Linked DNA regions of Homo sapiens: region 2 is linked to region 1. Evidence: fine-mapped expression QTL. A gene starts in region 1. The other region holds a variant in brackets. All regions are shown on one strand. Distances are from middle to middle.

Region 1 (8,328 bases):
TGTACCCAGATATTTGGCGCTCCCCAAGATGGCCACTTGGTGGCGCCAAAAGCTTTACTCTTCACCCTGCTTCCGTCTACATTTTCAAATGGCCCTCAAAGTTGGCTTGCTTGTTTTGATAACCCACTAGCCCAAAGCCAGCGGGAGGGATGTCAAGACCAAAAGGGAAGTTAAGCCTCATCTTTGAGGGCCATTTGAATATATCCAGCTTGATTTTAATCAGATGAAAGTAGGTCGGGGATCGGAAAACAATTTGGTCATCTGTACACTGTCTCAAGACAGACAGATGCATGCCTGTGTGCAAAAGTCGCCACCAGCGGCCGGGCGCGGTGGCTCACGCCTGTAATCCCAGCACTTTGGGAGGCCGAGGCGGGCGGATCACGAGGTGAGGAGATCGAGACTTTCCTGGGCAACACCGTGAAACCCCGTCTCTACTAAAAATACAAAAAGAAATTAGCCAGGCGTGGTGGTGGGCGCCTGTAGTCCCAGCTACTCTGGAGGCTGAGACAGGAGAATGGCGTGAACCCGGGAGGCGGAGCTTGCAGTGAGCCGAGATCGCGCCACTGCACTCCAGCCTGGGTAATAGAGCAAAACTCTGTCTCAAAAAAAAAAAAAAAAAAAAAGTCGCCACCAGCAAAGGGCCCCCTACAGAGGTTTTACTTCCAGGGTCTGTCACCATGGTCCACTAATAAGGAAAGATCCCTGCATTTCAGGACAGACTGTAAAGAAAGTTTGAGAAGGTATAAAAGCAAATAAAAACTACACTCAGGTACGATTTTTCTATTGATCCAGTGGGTTGGCAAAGCTAAAAAAATTGGGTACCAACCATACAGCGCTGGGGGGATGTCAGGGAACAAGCTCTCTCTCCCATTGATGGTGGGGGTCTACACTGGAACAGCAGCCATGGAAGGCAATTTATCAATGGCTAGCCAAATCACTAACACACATCCCTTTCTAGGGATGCATGTTATTCACACGTGAATGACACCTTGTTCTTAAGATTGGAAAAAGCATTTAAAACACCCATATCAATGAAACTTGCGAACTATGAATATCCATAGAACAGAATCCTGTGCAGCTGTACAAAGCGAGAAGTTCTGGGGAGCCCCACCCAAGACCACGGCCCAGGCCCCCACTGGTTCACCGCTTGTGAGGCTCTCCAGCCGTCCGTAATCGCCTGCTCCAGCTCTTCCCAGGTGACCATGGTGACTTCTTCTGCACCAGGAACCAAACTCAGCTTCCGGCTGACTAGTTCCTGACAGTGACAGAAAAGACACACACATACACCCCTTGATTAATCCCAAGCAGCTTTAGGAACAGACTTGGTCTAACAGGATCTGGGTGGGTCCTTCACAGCCCCAGCCCCAGGGAGAATTCATCACCCTTCAAGTGACCAGTGAAGGTTGGGCAGCCAGTTATCTGTCCCATGTGAGCACCCAGCAGAGCGCTGGGCAGGGCTGGGGCAGATTTCCCTCCAACCCTGGGGCAGAGACTTGAGAGGCAGAGGGCACACACTGCCTGCCCTGGATGGACAAGCCCTGGAGAGAGGGCCACACTGAGAGACGGCCAGCCCCCTGGAGAGCCCTTTCCCATGGAACTGGCTGGTATTACCAGGAATTGCTCCCGATCTTTGAATAGCTTCTCTAGTTCATCAACCCGCTGTAAAAGTACCTGGAAGAAGAGTTCAGGAAAGGAGAATGACAGTGGCCCCTACACACGCACACTCACATGCACACACACACAGATGCGCACACACACTCTCACACTCAGACACACACATGCATACACGCACATTCACACACTGACTCAGTGCCAGGAGACGAGGAAAGGGGGAATTTGTGTGGCTCTTATGGAAAGGGAGGGTTTCTTCTTCTACTTGGGTTTTTTTGGTTTCCTTTTTTTTTTTTTTTTGAGACAGGGTCTTGCTCTGTCACCCAAGCTGCAGTGCAGTGATGCCACCACAGCTCACTGCAGCCTCAACCTCTCAGGCTCAAGCGATCCTCCCACCTCAGCCTCCTGAGTAGCTGGGACTTCAGGCATGCACCACCACATCCAGCTAATTTTAAACATTTTTTTGTAGAGATAAGATCTTGCAATGTTGCCCAGGCTGGTCTTGAACTCCTGGGTCCGAGCAATCCTCCAGCCTCGGCCTCCCACAGTGCTGAGATTACAGGCAGGAGCCCCTGCTTTCTACCTGGTTTTTACCTGGCCAGTCAGCCCAGGCTCCTGGGTCTTTTCCCAGCCAAGTGCAGGAAGGGAAGTGAGATGCAGTGGGGGACCTGGCTGGTAGCATGGCAGGAGTAAGTGCTGCTGCAGGGATGGGACCCTTTGGTCCTGGGATTCAGTTTGCTCCAACCCACTTGTGAAAGCCTGTAGGATGAGGCCCACCTTGCCTTACAAGGAAGGAAGGGTGCCAGGTACCTCAACAGTAGCTGAACATCTGTGCTATCTAAAGAGAAAAGCACCTCAAAAGAACCAAAGCAAATCGCTACAACATAAGGTGCTATCATATTTGGGATTAAGAAAAAATATATTAATAAACAAAAATAAAACAAGTTACTTTTTATAACTTTTGCAAACTTCTAGAATCTAAGATTACGTAAAAATTAAAACAAAAGGCCAGGCGCAGTGGCTCTTGCCTGTAATCCCAACACTTTGGGAAGCCGAGGCAGGAGGATCACTTTAGGTCAGGAGTTCGAGACCAGCCTGGCCAACACGGCAAAACCCCATCTCTACTAAAAGTACAAAAGTTAGCTGGGCATGGTGGTGTGCACCTATAATCCTAGCTACTCGGGAAGCCGAGGCAGGAGAATTCCTTGAACCCAGGAGATGGAGTTGCAGTGAGCCGACAATGCACCACTGCACTCCAGCCTGGGTGACAGAGTGAGAATGTGTCTCAAAAAAAAAAAAAAAAAAAAAAAAACCCAAAAAAATTAAAACAAAAAAAACCCCCACCACACTTTAAAGTTTGAAAAGGAAAGCAGACATGCTTCCCAGAGCAAAAGTGAGTTGGTGCTGCGGTCTCGAGACCTGGGGTGATATGGCAGGAGGGCATGAGCGGCCAGGGCTCCCCTGCTGGGGCTTGGCCTCTTCTTCCTGCCTCTTCCCGGCCTCTTTTTCCCCTCCTGTCTCTCCTCTTGGCCTCCCCACCCAGCTGCCTTCCTAGTTGCTTCTGCTTTTTCTTTCAGAACCAACCTAAGGTGGCTCTGAGACATGCACGTGTCTATTACCTCCTGGCGCTGACCTGCGTTGCTTCCTGCTGTTCACTGGACAATACTTATACTCAATGATTACATGCATTTGTCCCTCCAAGAAAACAAAAGTCCAGTTGAAGGCAGGGCTCAGTGGCTCACGCCTGTAATGCCCAGCACTTTGGGAGGCCGAGGCGGGCAGATCACTTGAGGTCAGGAGTTTGAGACCAGCCCCGCCAACATGGTGAAACTCCTTCTCTACTAAAAACACAAATATTAGCCAGGCGGGGTGGCGCGCGCCTATAATCCCAGCTACTCGGGAGGCTGAGGCAGGAGAATCGCTTGAGTCTGGGAGGCGGAAGTTGCAGTGAGCCGAGACTGCACCACTGCATTTCAGCCTGGGTGATAGAGTGAGACTCCTTCTCAAAAAAAAAAAAAGTCCAAGTGAAACGGTCCCCTGCCTGCTGTGGCTTGTGTCATGGCCATAGGAAGCTGAGGTCCAACTCTCCATCCTGACTCCCCTTCTCTGGGAGCCTTTGTCCTCAACACGTATCTCTTCATGTCCTTATTCATTTTAAAAAGGGAATTCACTCTAAGAATCTTCTGAGAAGTTGCCGGCCCCACTCTGAGCCAGCTCTGGGTCCTTGGATGTCTGATAAGTGGTGGGCGAACCTCTCCCGTAAACAGGGGCTAGGAAGGAGGGGGTGGGATGGGGCCACTACACTTAGGAGGTGGGGTCCCCAGGCCCCTCCAGCTCGGGGAGGCCCTAGGCCTTTTGGTGGCGTTCTTTTAGGATTTTCACGTCTTGCAGCCCCGTGGACTGCAAGGTAGAGCATGGGCCACTCTATTTAGCCAGTCGCACTGAGGTCTGGCACCTCCTCGGTCCCCATCCCCTCCGTCCCCACCACCGCTCACCCCTCCAGGGTGGTGGGGACTCGGCTAGGCCTGGAGGGCGGCCTGGAGGAGGCAGACGGCCTGCGCGTGCCTCCGTGTGCGTGCTCACCCTGGCAAAGCTGAGCTCCTCGGCGGCGTCCTTCATGATACTCCCAGTCCGCACCCTATCGAACGCCCGCACGCCCACCTCCTGCTCCTCCGGCCACTCTAGCGCGGCCAGGTCAAGCCCGCTGGCCTGGGAGAAGTGCTGCACGTGCGTGGCGATGCCCTGCACCTGGCCGTCCACACGCTTGAGCTGCTTGCTCAGGTCCTCCACCTGGCCGCCCAGGTCCTTCACTTGGCTCTCCAGCGCTGACGAAGGCGCCTGGCCCACGCCCCTGCGCTTCTCCCGGGGCGCCCCCTTGGGCACCTCCTTGGGCGCGGGCAGGTGCGGGATGCTGAACGAGCTCCGGACGGACTGCAGCGAGCGGCTGGGCTCGGGCGACGAGGGCTGGAAGTCGATCCGGGTATTTTGGAGGTCGAGGTTCTTGAGCATGGCCACGATGAGCGTGTGCAGGGCCGTGAAGTTGACGGCGCCCACCTCTGGCGTGCCGATGGAGAGGTCCGCCAGCTCCCGGAGGGAGACCGTGGTCGCGGGCGGCATCGTGGCTGTCAGGAGCTGTGCGCCGCCGCGGGGCGCCGGCCAACCACTTCCCGCTCACTGCACGCCGCGCCTTGGGGCCTTTCGGGGGCCCTGCGAGGTCCTCGGGGCGCCCCTGCCCCGGGTCCGGCCGAGTCACTGGACAGAGCTCCTGCCTCCAGGGAATCTGCGCCTCCGCTCCCCGGCGGGGTCCGCGATGGCCACCCCTCCGCTGTCTGTCGCTGGCCTCGGGTCCCCGAGCTGGAGCCCTGGACTCCCAGTCCCCGCGCCGGCGGACGTTTGAAACGTGGGGGCCCCCGCGTGCCCTGAAGATTCCACGTAACAACACGCCTCCCTGCGAGCCACGGGGGCGGGGGGAAGTAAAGGCCACCACAAGGATCACAAGGGGAGCCTTGGCAACGGGCTGAGGAGGCCTCCTAAGATCCAGCTAGACTCCATCCATCCCCTTAACCTAGAAAGGCCAGGATTCACTCACTCTTGGCGGGGCCACATAAGGAAAGACTTGAGGGTTTCCTGGCAACCATGCTTTGTGTCATCAGCTGCGTCCATTCCAGAGTGGTGGCCCCATGTCTATGGCCCCATGTCTAAGGGATGCAGTCCTGGGGCCCTGGTCCCCTCAGACAGTCCACATATTTTGTTCAATCAAAGGTGAAGCAACTTGGAAAAGACAACCCACTCACTATTCAGGCAGTTCCAATTAGCCACTAGATGACTAACTGGTGGCTAATTGTCCCTTTTCTGTGCTGCCATAATTTTTTTTTTACTTTTGAGAGGGAGTCTTGCTCTGTCGCCCAGGCTGTAGTGCAATGGCACGATCTCGGCTCACTGCAACCTCTGCCTCCCGGGTTGACATGATTCTCCTGCCTCAGCCTCCCGAGTAGCTGGGATTACAGATGCGTGGTACCATGCCCGGCTAATTTTTTGTATTTTTAGCAGAGACGGGGTTTCACTATGTTGGCCAGGCTGGTCTTGAACTCCCGACCTCAAGTGATCGACCCACCTCGGCCTCCCAAAGTGCTGGGATTACAGGTGTAAGCCACCGCGCCCAGCCTGCCATAAATTAATTGATCTCAAAAAAACGGCCAGGCTTGGTGGCTCACACCTGTAATCCCAGCACTTTGGGAGGCCGAGGCGGGTGGATCACCTGAGGTAAGGGGTTCAAGGCCAGCCTAGCCAACATAGTGAAACCCCTCTGCTAAAAATACAAAAAATTAGCCGGGCATGGTACCGCGCATCTGTAATCCCAGCTACTCGGGAGGCTGAGGCAGGAGAATCGCGTCAACCCGGGAGGCAGAGGTTGCAGTGAGCCAAGATCGCACCACTGCACCCCAGCCTGGGCGACAGTGCAAGACTCTGTCTCAAAAAAAAAAAAAAAGAAAAGAAAAGAAACCACTCACCTGGTCAAGCGCCTGTGCTTGAGCTCATTACAAAGCAGGATTAAACAGCACGAGACAAATCTGGTGTTAACAATTGAGACATGACTTCCCCATACAAGATTCTTCCCAAAAACGTATAAATAAAACTTCCTAACAGAAGCACAGCAAGGCTACTTAAAGAGAACCTATGAATGTGTGCCATGCATGGCCAGCCTCCTCCGTGAGCTCTGCATCTGCAGATTTAACCAACCACGACTGAACACGTACAGATTCCTGTCATGATTCTCTAAATAATACAGCATGACCACCATCTACACAGGATATTGCAGTAGGTATTACAAGTCATCCAGGATGTGCATAGCTTATATGCAGATACTACACCATTTTCTATCAGGGACTTGCACATCCATGGGCAGGAGGTTGAGTCCTGGAACCAATCACCCATGGATTGTAAGGAATAACTGTACTATTTTAACTACTGTTCAAGTTCAGATTTTTCACTTCAGCCTGAGAGGTACTGTTTATTTAATTGAAGGATTTTCGATCATCATTATATTCCAATAACTTGGGACACAGTAGGCCTTTAAGGGGTTATCAAAATAACTAGTTCTTTGCAGTCTTTTTTTTTTTTTGAGATGGAATCTTGCTCTGTCACTTGGGCTGGAGTGCAGTGGCACAATCTCAGCTCACTGCAATCTCTGCCTCTTGGGTTCAACCAATTAATTCTCCTGCCTCAGCCTCCCGAGTAGCTGGGATTACAGGCGTGCACCCCCTCCCCCAACACCCGGCTAATTTTTGTATTTTTAGTAGGGACAGGGTTTCACCATATTGGCCAGGCTGGTCTCAAACTCCTGACCTCAAGTGATCTGCCCACCTCGGCCTCCCAAAGTGCTGGGATTACAGGCGTGAGCCATGATGCCTGGCCTCTTTGTAGTCTTTTTATGCTTTTAACTTAGCTAGGCTAATTTTTGTATTTTTAGTAGAGACGGGGTTTTGCCATGTTGGCCAGGCTGGTCTCAAACTCCTGACCTCAGGTGATCTACCTGCCTCGGCCTCCCAAAGTGCAGGGATTACAGGCATAAGACACGATCCCTGGCCTGTTTTTTTTTTTTGAGACAGGGTGTTGCTCTGTCACCCAGGATGGATGGCAGTGGTACAATCATAGTTCACTGCAGCTTCAACCTCCTTGGCTCAGGCAATCCTCCCACCTCAGCCTCCCAAGGTAGCTGGAACTACAGGCACATGCTACCAATGCCTGGCTAATTTTTGTATTTTTTGTAGACATGGGGGTTTCGCCATGTTTCCCAGGCTGGTCTGAAACTCCTGGGCTCAAGCAATCCTCCTTGCCTCAGCCTCCCAAAGTACTCAGATTATAGGTGTGAGCCACCACACCTAGACTTTTTTTTTTTTTTTTTAAAGATTTAAAATACAGTATTCAACAAGGATTTAGCTTCAACACTTAGGAAGAGGGTGGAACCTGGGAAAGTGTTTGTGTCCAGCCACAGACCTGACTGCTGTTCTGTATCCATGGTCTTCTGCTGTCTAATGAAAAGACTAGCAAGACAACAAATTATTTTATTTGCAACTTCAGAGCCACTCAGATACCCAGAGGTGGGATGCTATTTTCTAATCTGACATCCTTGGAAGATGTAACAACATGAATGCTTCATTTTTCAATGGCTGTAGGCATAACAATTTCTGAAAGAAAAATACGATTCTCTATAAAAGACTTGAAGTTGATTTGGGAGAGGCCAACTGGATAGTAATAGGGCCACAGGCGCTCAGCTTCCCTAACCAGGTTCAACATCAATACCTCCATTTCCCTGGAGCTGAAACAACTAAATGAACATTATAGAGTTAAGACTTTATGTGCCTTTAACTCCTCTTTAGTATCAATAAGATTTTCAGATTATTTTTAAGAAAGCAGCTAGAACTTTTAAGGAACAGGGCTGATGACAGCAGACATGTAAGGCCATGTTATGATATTTATCCATTAGCTCTGTCTTCTTCCTGACTCTTTTAATCCCTCCTCCCCATCAATCCGGGCAAAAGAAGATATCTAACTCCAGGCTGTTTCGAGTCCTCCCTTGCAAGGAAACACTGTATCACTCATGGCACTGCTTTTTCCATGTTTCCCTCAGGAGGTCCAGGGTCGAGACCCTCGTGAAAGCTAGTCATCCACAGTGATGTTTCGGAAAAGGTAGGCCATGGACTCTCCATTGTGGAT
Region 2 (8,328 bases), 55 kb after region 1:
AGACCAGCCTGGCCAACATAGTGAAACCCTGTCTCTACTAAAAATACAAAAAAGTAGCTGGGCGTGGTGGTGGGCGCCTGTAATCCCAGCTACTCGGGAGGCTGAGGCAGGAGAATGGCTTGAACCCAGAGGTGGAGGTTGCAGCGAGCCAAGATCACGCCATTGCACTCCAGCCTGCGCGACAGAGCGAGACTCCATCTCAAAATCAATCAAGCAATCAATCAATTAATCAAACAAGGCTGGGCATGGTGGCTCATGCCTGTAATCTCAGCATTTTGGGCGGCCGAGGCTAGTGGATTACCTGAGGTCAGGAGTTTGAGACCAGCCTGGCCAACATGGCAAAACCCATCTCTACTAAAAATAACAAAAATTAGCCAGGTGTGGTAGCAGGCACCTGTAATCTCAGTTACTCAGGAGGCTGAGGTAGGAGAATCGCTTTAACCTGGGAGGTGGAGGTTGCAGTGAGCCGAGATTGCGCCACTGCACTCTAGCTTGGGCCACAGAGCGAGACCCTGTCTCTAAATAAATAAATAATAAATTAAAATTAAAAAAAAAACGTTTGCTTTGTCTGGCACAATGGCTCACGCCTACAATCCCAGCACTTCGGGAGGCCAAGGCAGGTGGATCACCTGAGATCAGGAGTTCAAGGCCAGCCTGGCCAACATGGCGAAACCACATCTCTACTAAAAATACAAAAATTAACCAGATGTGGTGAGGAGCACCTCGGATCCCAGCTACTCGGGAGGCTGAGGCATGAGAATCACTTAAACCCGGGAGGTGGAGGTTGCAGTGAGCCAAGACCACACCATTGCACTCCAGCCTGGGTGACAGAGCAAGACTGTCTCAAACGAAAAAAAAAAGGTTTGCTTTTAAAAGAATCATTGATGATGGGGAAATGCTCATAAACAAAGTGGCAAAATAACCTGACTTAGACATTATCTGAGTCATATTTTCCTGCATGTCTTAAGAGAAAGAAGGCGCACAGGGACGTGTTTGAGGACCTGAGACTCCCTTAAGAGGCTTTTATTATTTTTATTTATTTATTTTTTAAGAGACAGGGTCTCACTATGTTACCCAGGCTGGACTCAAACTCCTGGGTTCAAATGACGCTCCCGAGCAGCTGGAATTGAGGCTTTTATTATTGAAAGCCTAAATTCCCAAAGGCAAGAACTGAAGTGTCCCTGAGTGCCCCAGCCTTGGAGAGGGGGAGTCCTCACAAATTGAAGGGACAGTTGGACGAGGAGGTGGGGACTCCAACAAGTACCCTGGGGACTCTCATAAAGATGAGGAAAGAATGAAGACCGGAGGCTCTCCTTGAAGCTCAGGAACTGCGGAAGGCCCTGGGGCTCTTTTATGTACCAGTCCTGGCAGAGGACTTGGAGTCAGATTTAATCTTGTTAAACAGAATTTGTGGCCCAGCATGGTGGCTCACGCCTGTAATTCCAGCACTTTGGGAGGCCGAGGTGGGAGGATCACCTGAGGTCAGGAGTTCGAGACCAGCCTGACCAACATGGTGAAAGCCTGTCTCTACTAAAAATACAAAAATTAGCTGGGTGTTGTGGCATCCGCCTATATTCGCAGCTGCTAGTGAGGCTAGGGCAGGAGAATCGCTTGAATCCGGGAGGCTGAGGTTGCAGTGAGCCGAGATCGCCCCATTGCACTCCAGCCTGGGCAACAGAGTGAGACTCTGTCTCAAAACAAAAAAGAGAGAGAGACTCTCTGAAATAAAGCAACGTTTATTTGGGATCGGGCATGACAATGGGAATATGTGTGCCATAGTAAACTATGTGTGTATCCAACTAGGTAAAGGAGGACGAACGTTTTTAGAGGAAGATTGAGGGGGATTACACAATTGTTTTGGGATAATTTTCCTTGGCTACAAGGATCAACAACAAGTGTGACCCAGTGCCAGGTTGTACAGGCAGTTGCTGGGCAGATGCCCTCGCAGAAGTATTTTTTGTGTAAGGTTTCAGTGGCCTTTGTGCAAGGTTGTGATTTTTGCTGAGTCTTCCGTGATAGTTTTTGTTATCTGGCATTTATGCATAAGAACCTTCTCTTTATAGCCTTTCCCAGCTCTATTTGTCAGAGCTTTTTGTTTTGTTTTAACACAAGTGACTCAATTTTGCTTCTGACAACTTCCACAGAGTCTTCATTTTTACTGATGGGTCAGGGATTTTTTTCTTTCTTTCTTTCTTTTTTTTTTGAGACTGAGTCTTGCTCTGTCACCCAGGCTGGAGTGCAGTGGCACAATCTCGGCTCACTGCAAGTTCCGCCTCCCGGGTTCACGCCATTCTCCTGCCTCAGCCTCCTGAGTAGCTGGGACGACAGGCGCCCGCCACCACGCCTGGCTAATTTTTTGTATTTTTAGTAGAGACGGGGTTTCACCGTGTTAGCCAGGATGGTCTCGATCTCCTGACCTTGTGATCCGCCCTCCTCGGCCTCCCAAAGTGCTGGGATTACAGGCATGAGCCACCGCGCCCGGCTGATTTTTTCTTTTTTTGAAATGAAGTTTTGCTCTTGTCACCCAGGCTGGAGTGCAACGGCACAATCTCGGCTCACCACAACCTCCGCCTCCTGGGTTCAAGCAATTATCCTGCCTCAGCCTCCCAAGTAGCTGGGATTACAGGCATGCGCCACCACGCCTGGGTAATTTTTGTATTTTTAGTAGAGATGGGGTTTCAACCATATTGGCCAGGGTGGTCTTGAACTCCTGACCTTGTGATCCGCCCGCCTCGGCCTCCCAAAGTGCTGGGATTACAGGCGTGAGCCACCGCGCCCGGCCTTAACATGTCTTTTTTGACGTTTGAAGTGAGACTTCACTTGACCAGTTTTGTTTTTTTTACCGTTTCTCTTTATAAGACCAGACTGACTCTTGAGGTTCCAGACCAGCTGGATACCTCCTGCCAGAACGAAGACAGCTGTGCCTCCACAAAATGACATTTTGCATCTACAACCCTATTTCAGTTTTCAAGTTTTAAAAAATGAGCTGCTTGTTAACCGGGCCAGTTTCGGCATGAATTATAGAAAGATCTCCTCTGTACTAGAAACTAGAAGACAAAGGGTGGCATAAGTAGAGATTTGGCATGAAATATTGTCCAGGAACAAACAGGACAAGACAAAGAGGGGTGTGTTTAGGATTGCTCAGCCCTGTCCCCAAGGGAGGAACTAATTGGAAGACAAGGTCAGTCTTTGCAAGGATAAAGAACATTTCAGGCAATAATTCAGAAGTTTTGCATCCACGTTGCGCCACTCCAACTTGAACTTTGGAAAAATATGAGGCCTTTCCCTGTTTTCATTCTCCAAACAAGCCTCAGCAAGCTGGGACTGAGTGATCTTTATTTCTAAAAATAATACCAACTTGGATCTCTAAGCTGATTCTCTCTATAGGGTACCAGAAACCATGCTGGGGGCAGGAGCAAAATACAGGCAGACAGAGCCAAGCCTGCTAGGAGTGACCCTTCCCAGCTTCAGCAAGGACAGTGGTAGGCAGCAGCTGCTGGGCTGGTCTCTGGAAAATCTGAAATGGAATCACAAGGCACTGAGTCCTCGACCTCACCTATGCCTCGGTTTCAGTAGCTCTTGGTGGGAGTCTTTGGAGGCATTTGAGGGGGTCTGAAATGCCCGAACATCATTGAAGACTTTGGTTCAAGTGGAAACCCTCAAGGGGCTTCTAGTGCCTTCTCTCTGTGCACCGCAGAAGCTCCTGCCAAATGACATGCTTCCTTGCCCCTATGGCCGGATTCATAGCTGCACTGGCAAGATGGGGTGGAAGAGACAGAAACGGAGCAAGGAAAAAGGCCAGGGCTGTAGGGGCTGAGAAGGCAGGAGGCAAACACTAAGGAGACATTATAACAACTCAGGAGGCAAATGATTCAGGAAGTCACAAGGTTCTTGGCTCAACTGTGCCAAATTTGTCAGTTCAAGAGGGTCCAGGTCTATGAGAGCTAAAAACCCCCAAACAATGCAAATGTCCAAAGGCAGCTATGGGCCGGCCATGGAGGCTCACATTTATAATCCCAGCCTCCCTTGGGAGGCCAAGGCGGGAGGATCACCTGAGGTCAGGAGTTTGAGACCAGCCTGGCCAACATGGTGAAACCCATCTCTACTAAAAATACAAAAAACTAGCTGGGCATGGTGGCAGATGCCTGCAATTCCAGCTACTCAGGAGGCTGAGGCAGGAGAATTGCTTGAAGCTGGGAGGCAGAGGTTGCAGCGAGCTGAGATGGCGCCACTGTACTCCAGCCTGGGCAACAAGAGCAAAACCCTGTCTCAAAAAATAAAATAGTAAAAAAAATAAGGCTGGGCGTGGTGGCTCACGCCTGTAATCCCAGCACTTTGGGAGGCCAAGGCGGGCGGATGGCTTGAGCCTAGAATTCAAGACCAGCCTGGGCAACATGGTGAAACCCTATCTCTACAAAAAACACAAAAGTTAGCTGGGCATGGTGGTTCATGTCTGTATTCCCAGCTAATTGGGAAGCTGAGGTGGGAGGATCCCTTGAGCCCAGGAGGTTGAGGATGCAGTGAGCTGTGAGACCCTGTCTCTTAAAAAAAAAAAAAAAAAAAAGGCAATCAAAGTGAGACAGGAGAATAGGATCTGGAAGCAGGGACTCTAAGGACTTCCTAGAACTGAATCAAATGGAAACACTTCAACTATGACAGGAAATATCCTCTCCATTTACATAGGGCGTACACCGAGTGAATGACTTTGTAACTTTACTTCATCCCTTCATTTACATAGGGCGTACACCAAGTAACCAATGGAAACTTCTAGAGGGTATTTAAACCCCCAAAAATTAGCCCCTATGCTCAGGCTGCTCTCACCCTGTGGAGTGTACTTTTGTTTTGTTTTTTCTTTTTTTTTTGAGACAGAGTCTTGCCCTGTCACCCAAGTTGGAATGCAGTGACACGATCTCAGGTTCAAGAAATTCTC[A/G]TGTCTCAGCCTCCTGAGTAGCTGGGATTATAGGCATCGCCACCACGCCCAGATAATTTTTGTTTTGTTTTGTTTCTGAGACAGAGTCTTCCTCTGTTGCCCAGGGTGGAGTGCAGCTGCACGATCTCAGCTCACTGCAAACCCCGCCTCTTGGGTTCAAGCGATTCTTCTGCCTCAGCCTCCTGAGTAGCTGGAATTACAGGCACGCACCACCACGCCCAGCTAATTTTTGTATTTTTAGTAAAGATGGGGGTTTCACCATATTGGCCAGGCTGGTTTTGAACTCCTGATCTCGTGATCCGCCTGCCTTGGCCTCCCAAAGTGCTGGGATTACAGGCATGAGCTACCGCGCCTGGCCTAATTTTTGTATTTTTAGTAGAGTCGGGGTTTCACCATGTTGGCCAGGCTGGTCTCGAACTCCTGGCCCCAAGTAATCCGCCTGCCTTGGCCTCCCAAAATGCTGCAGGGATTACAGGCGTGAGCCACCGCGCCCGGCCTGTACTTTTGTTTTCAATAAGTCTCTGCTTTTGTTGCTTCATTCTTTCCTTTGTTTGTTTGTGAATTTTGTACAATTATTTAAGACACCAAAAACCTGGACACCCTCCACCAGTAACAAAAGGATTTTCCCCAAAGTATATTTCTTTTTTTAAATTTTGAGATGGAGTTTCGCTCTTGTCTAGACTGGAGTGCAATGGTGCCATCTTGGCTCACTGCAACCTTGGCCTCCTGCCTCAGCCTCCCGAGTAGTGGGATTACAGGTGCCTGCCACCATGCCCAGCTAATTTTTGTATTTTTAGTAGATGGGGTTTCACCATGGTGGCCAGGCTGGTCTTGAACTCTTGACCTCAGGTGATCCACCAGCCACCTTGGCCTCCCAAAGTGTTGGGATTACAGGCATGAGCCACCGCGCCTGGTCTCCCAAAATACATTTTTTTGACATATTTTGAAATGGCCCTCCAAAGCTTTCTTTTATGGGGGAAATCTGCATTCTGTAGAGAATCCCCTTCCCTTCTCAGGTCTCTCTGGAGAGACTGGCACCTGTGACATTCACATCTCTTCTCTCAGAAGCCTGCTACCTGAAGGCGTCATCTACAAGACAAGAACTTTGGCTTCCACAACCACCCACCACTTACCATAACTCAAGCTGATTTCAGCTCTTCAGGCAGAGCTTACCATTTTCAACAAATTGCCAATCAGCAAATGTTGAAATCTACCTATGACCTGGAAACCACCCCCACTTCAAGATGTCCCACCTTTCTGGGCTGAGCCAATGTATACCTTACCTCTGTCCATTTATGTCTTTTCCTGTAACTTCTGTCTTCCTAAAATGTATAAATCAAGCCTTAGGCCGGGCACAGTGGCTCATGCCTGTAATCCCAGCACTTTGGCTGGCCGAGGCGGGCGGATCACTCGAGGTCAGAAGTTTGAGACCAGCCTGGGCAACATGGCGAAACTCCATCTCTACTAAAAATACAAAAAATTAGCTGGGTGTGGTGGCGCGAGCCTGTAATTCCAGCTACTTGGGAGGCTGAGGCAGGAGAATTGCTTGAACCCAGGATGTGGAGGTTGCAGAGATCGCACCACTTTACTCCAGCCGGGGAAACAGAGAGAGACTCTGTCTCAAAAAAAAAAAAAAAAAAAGGCTGGGTACAGTGGCTCATGCCTGACCCTGCCTGGAGGTTGCTGTGAGAGCTAAATGAGATGGAGAGTGGATGACAAGGAGGAGTGAGGTGCCCTGTGTGATCCTCCACGTTTTCCTGGAATTAGGAGAGCCCACCGCTGAGAATAAAATGCACCCCCAATTCTTGGTTCAGGGAACCACCCACTGAGGGGGCTGGCTGGGAGATGCCTCTCGACACTGACGCTGTCAACCCTGTGTGGAATTGAGAATTCCACTGGCTTTTGTTCCTGGTTCCTGGGAGGTAACCTGTAAATCCTCAGAATTTCCTGAGTGATAGTAGTGTCTGTGTTACTCACGATCGGGCCTCGGAGGACACCCGATCATTTATGCAAATGACTCTAGGTCCAGGAAGACCAACCGTGAGATTAGAAGGCTGTGGCTCTGGAGCCTGGGTGATGGAAGGTGATTGAGGCTACAGTGAGCTATGATCCTTCCACTGCACTCCAGCCTGGGCGACAGAGGGAGCCCTTGTCTCAAAACAAACAAACAAACAAAAAAATTTAAAAATTAGCTGGGTGTGTTGGTGCATGCTTACGGTCCCATAAGAGGGACCATAAGGGAGGATCATTTGAGCCCAGGAGTTTGAGGCTGCAGTGAGCCGTGATCACACCACTGCACTCCAGCCTGAACAACACAGCAAGAACCTGTCTCAAAAAAAAAAAAAAAAAAAAAAGCAGAAAGAAAAAGAAAACAAAATTAGAAGGTTGGGTCTTTGAGCCACTTGTTATCAGCCTGACTTCCGGGGACGGAGGGGCTGGAGCTTGAGTTTAGTGTGTGGTGTATGATTCCTCCATCATGCCTGCATATAAAACCCCAAGGACAACTCTACACAGAGGCTCGGGTGAGCTTCCCTGGTTAGTGATGCTCTGTCTATTGTCACAGATGGAGGTACCAGGAGGGTTAAGGTGTCCCTGAGGATAACAGCGCTTTGCACCGGGGACCCACCCAGCCCGGACGCAGTGCTTCTGGCTGTGGCTGGTTCTGATTCGTGTTCTTTTGCTGTAATAAAACTGTAAATGAAACTTCAGCATTTACCTGAGTGCTGTGAGTCATTCTAGTGAATTAGGAATCTGAGGGGGTGGTGGGAACCCCTGAATTTGAGGCCATCTGGTCAAAAGTGAGGACCCTGAACTTGCAGCTGGTGTCTGAAGTGAGGGCTGTCCTGTGGAGGAAGGCATCACCTGAGGCCCAACCCCAGGTAGTTGGTGTCAAATGTCATTGCACCTGCCCTGAAAGAAAGAGGGAGAGAAGTGAGGGAAGGGGCCACCTTTTGGGGAGAGCTGGTGTCTGTGAGAAAAGGCCTCAATCTTTTTTTTTTTTGAGATGGAGTTTCGCTCTTTCGCCCAGGCTGGAAAGAAGTGGCGTGATCTCAGCTCACTGCAACCTCCAACCCCCAGGTTCAAGTGATTCTCCTGCTCATCCTCCCGGGTAGCTGGGATTATAGGCGCCTGCCACCACACCTGGCTAATATTTGTATTTTTAGTAGAGACGGGGTTTCACCATGTTGGTCAGGCTGGTCTCGAACTTCTGACCTCAGGTGATCCACCCACCTTGACCTCCCAAAGTGCTGGGATTACAGACGTGAGCCACCCCGCCCAGCCCCTCATTTTTCTCTTTCTCTCTCTCACCTGACCTCAGGTGATCTGCCTGCCTCGGCTTCCCAAAGTACTAGGATTACAAGTGTGAGCCATGCCTGAGCAAGCCTCACTCTTTTTTT

Which allele goes with the higher level. Alleles are on the strand shown, and positions count from the first base shown. SD is a standard deviation of normalised expression in the study named.
For the expression in esophagus mucosa of the gene that starts at base 5,006 in region 1, G is the high allele of the variant in region 2 and A is the other (moderate effect, 0.57 SD a copy in GTEx).

The links. PIP is the estimated chance that this variant, and not a neighbour inherited with it, causes the effect.
Region 2: its variant is fine-mapped to the expression of QRICH2 in esophagus mucosa (GTEx, PIP above 0.99).

The regions. Positions count from the first base shown.
Region 1 is chr17:76,303,271-76,311,598 of GRCh38, forward strand. It overlaps QRICH2 (glutamine rich 2), which reads right to left and starts at 5,006. Exons shown (of 19, transcript NM_001388453.1): 1 at 4,195-5,006; 2 at 1,612-1,671; 3 at 1,145-1,255. The coding sequence starts at 4,728. It overlaps PRPSAP1 (phosphoribosyl pyrophosphate synthetase associated protein 1), which reads right to left. Exons shown (of 10, transcript NM_002766.3): 10 at 6,208-8,328. The coding sequence ends at 8,272.
Region 2 is chr17:76,358,628-76,366,955 of GRCh38, forward strand. No RefSeq gene overlaps it. Among named protein-coding and RNA genes, the nearest start is that of PRPSAP1, 8.9 kb to the left of the region's middle. The variant A/G (reference allele first, on the strand shown) is at 4,931.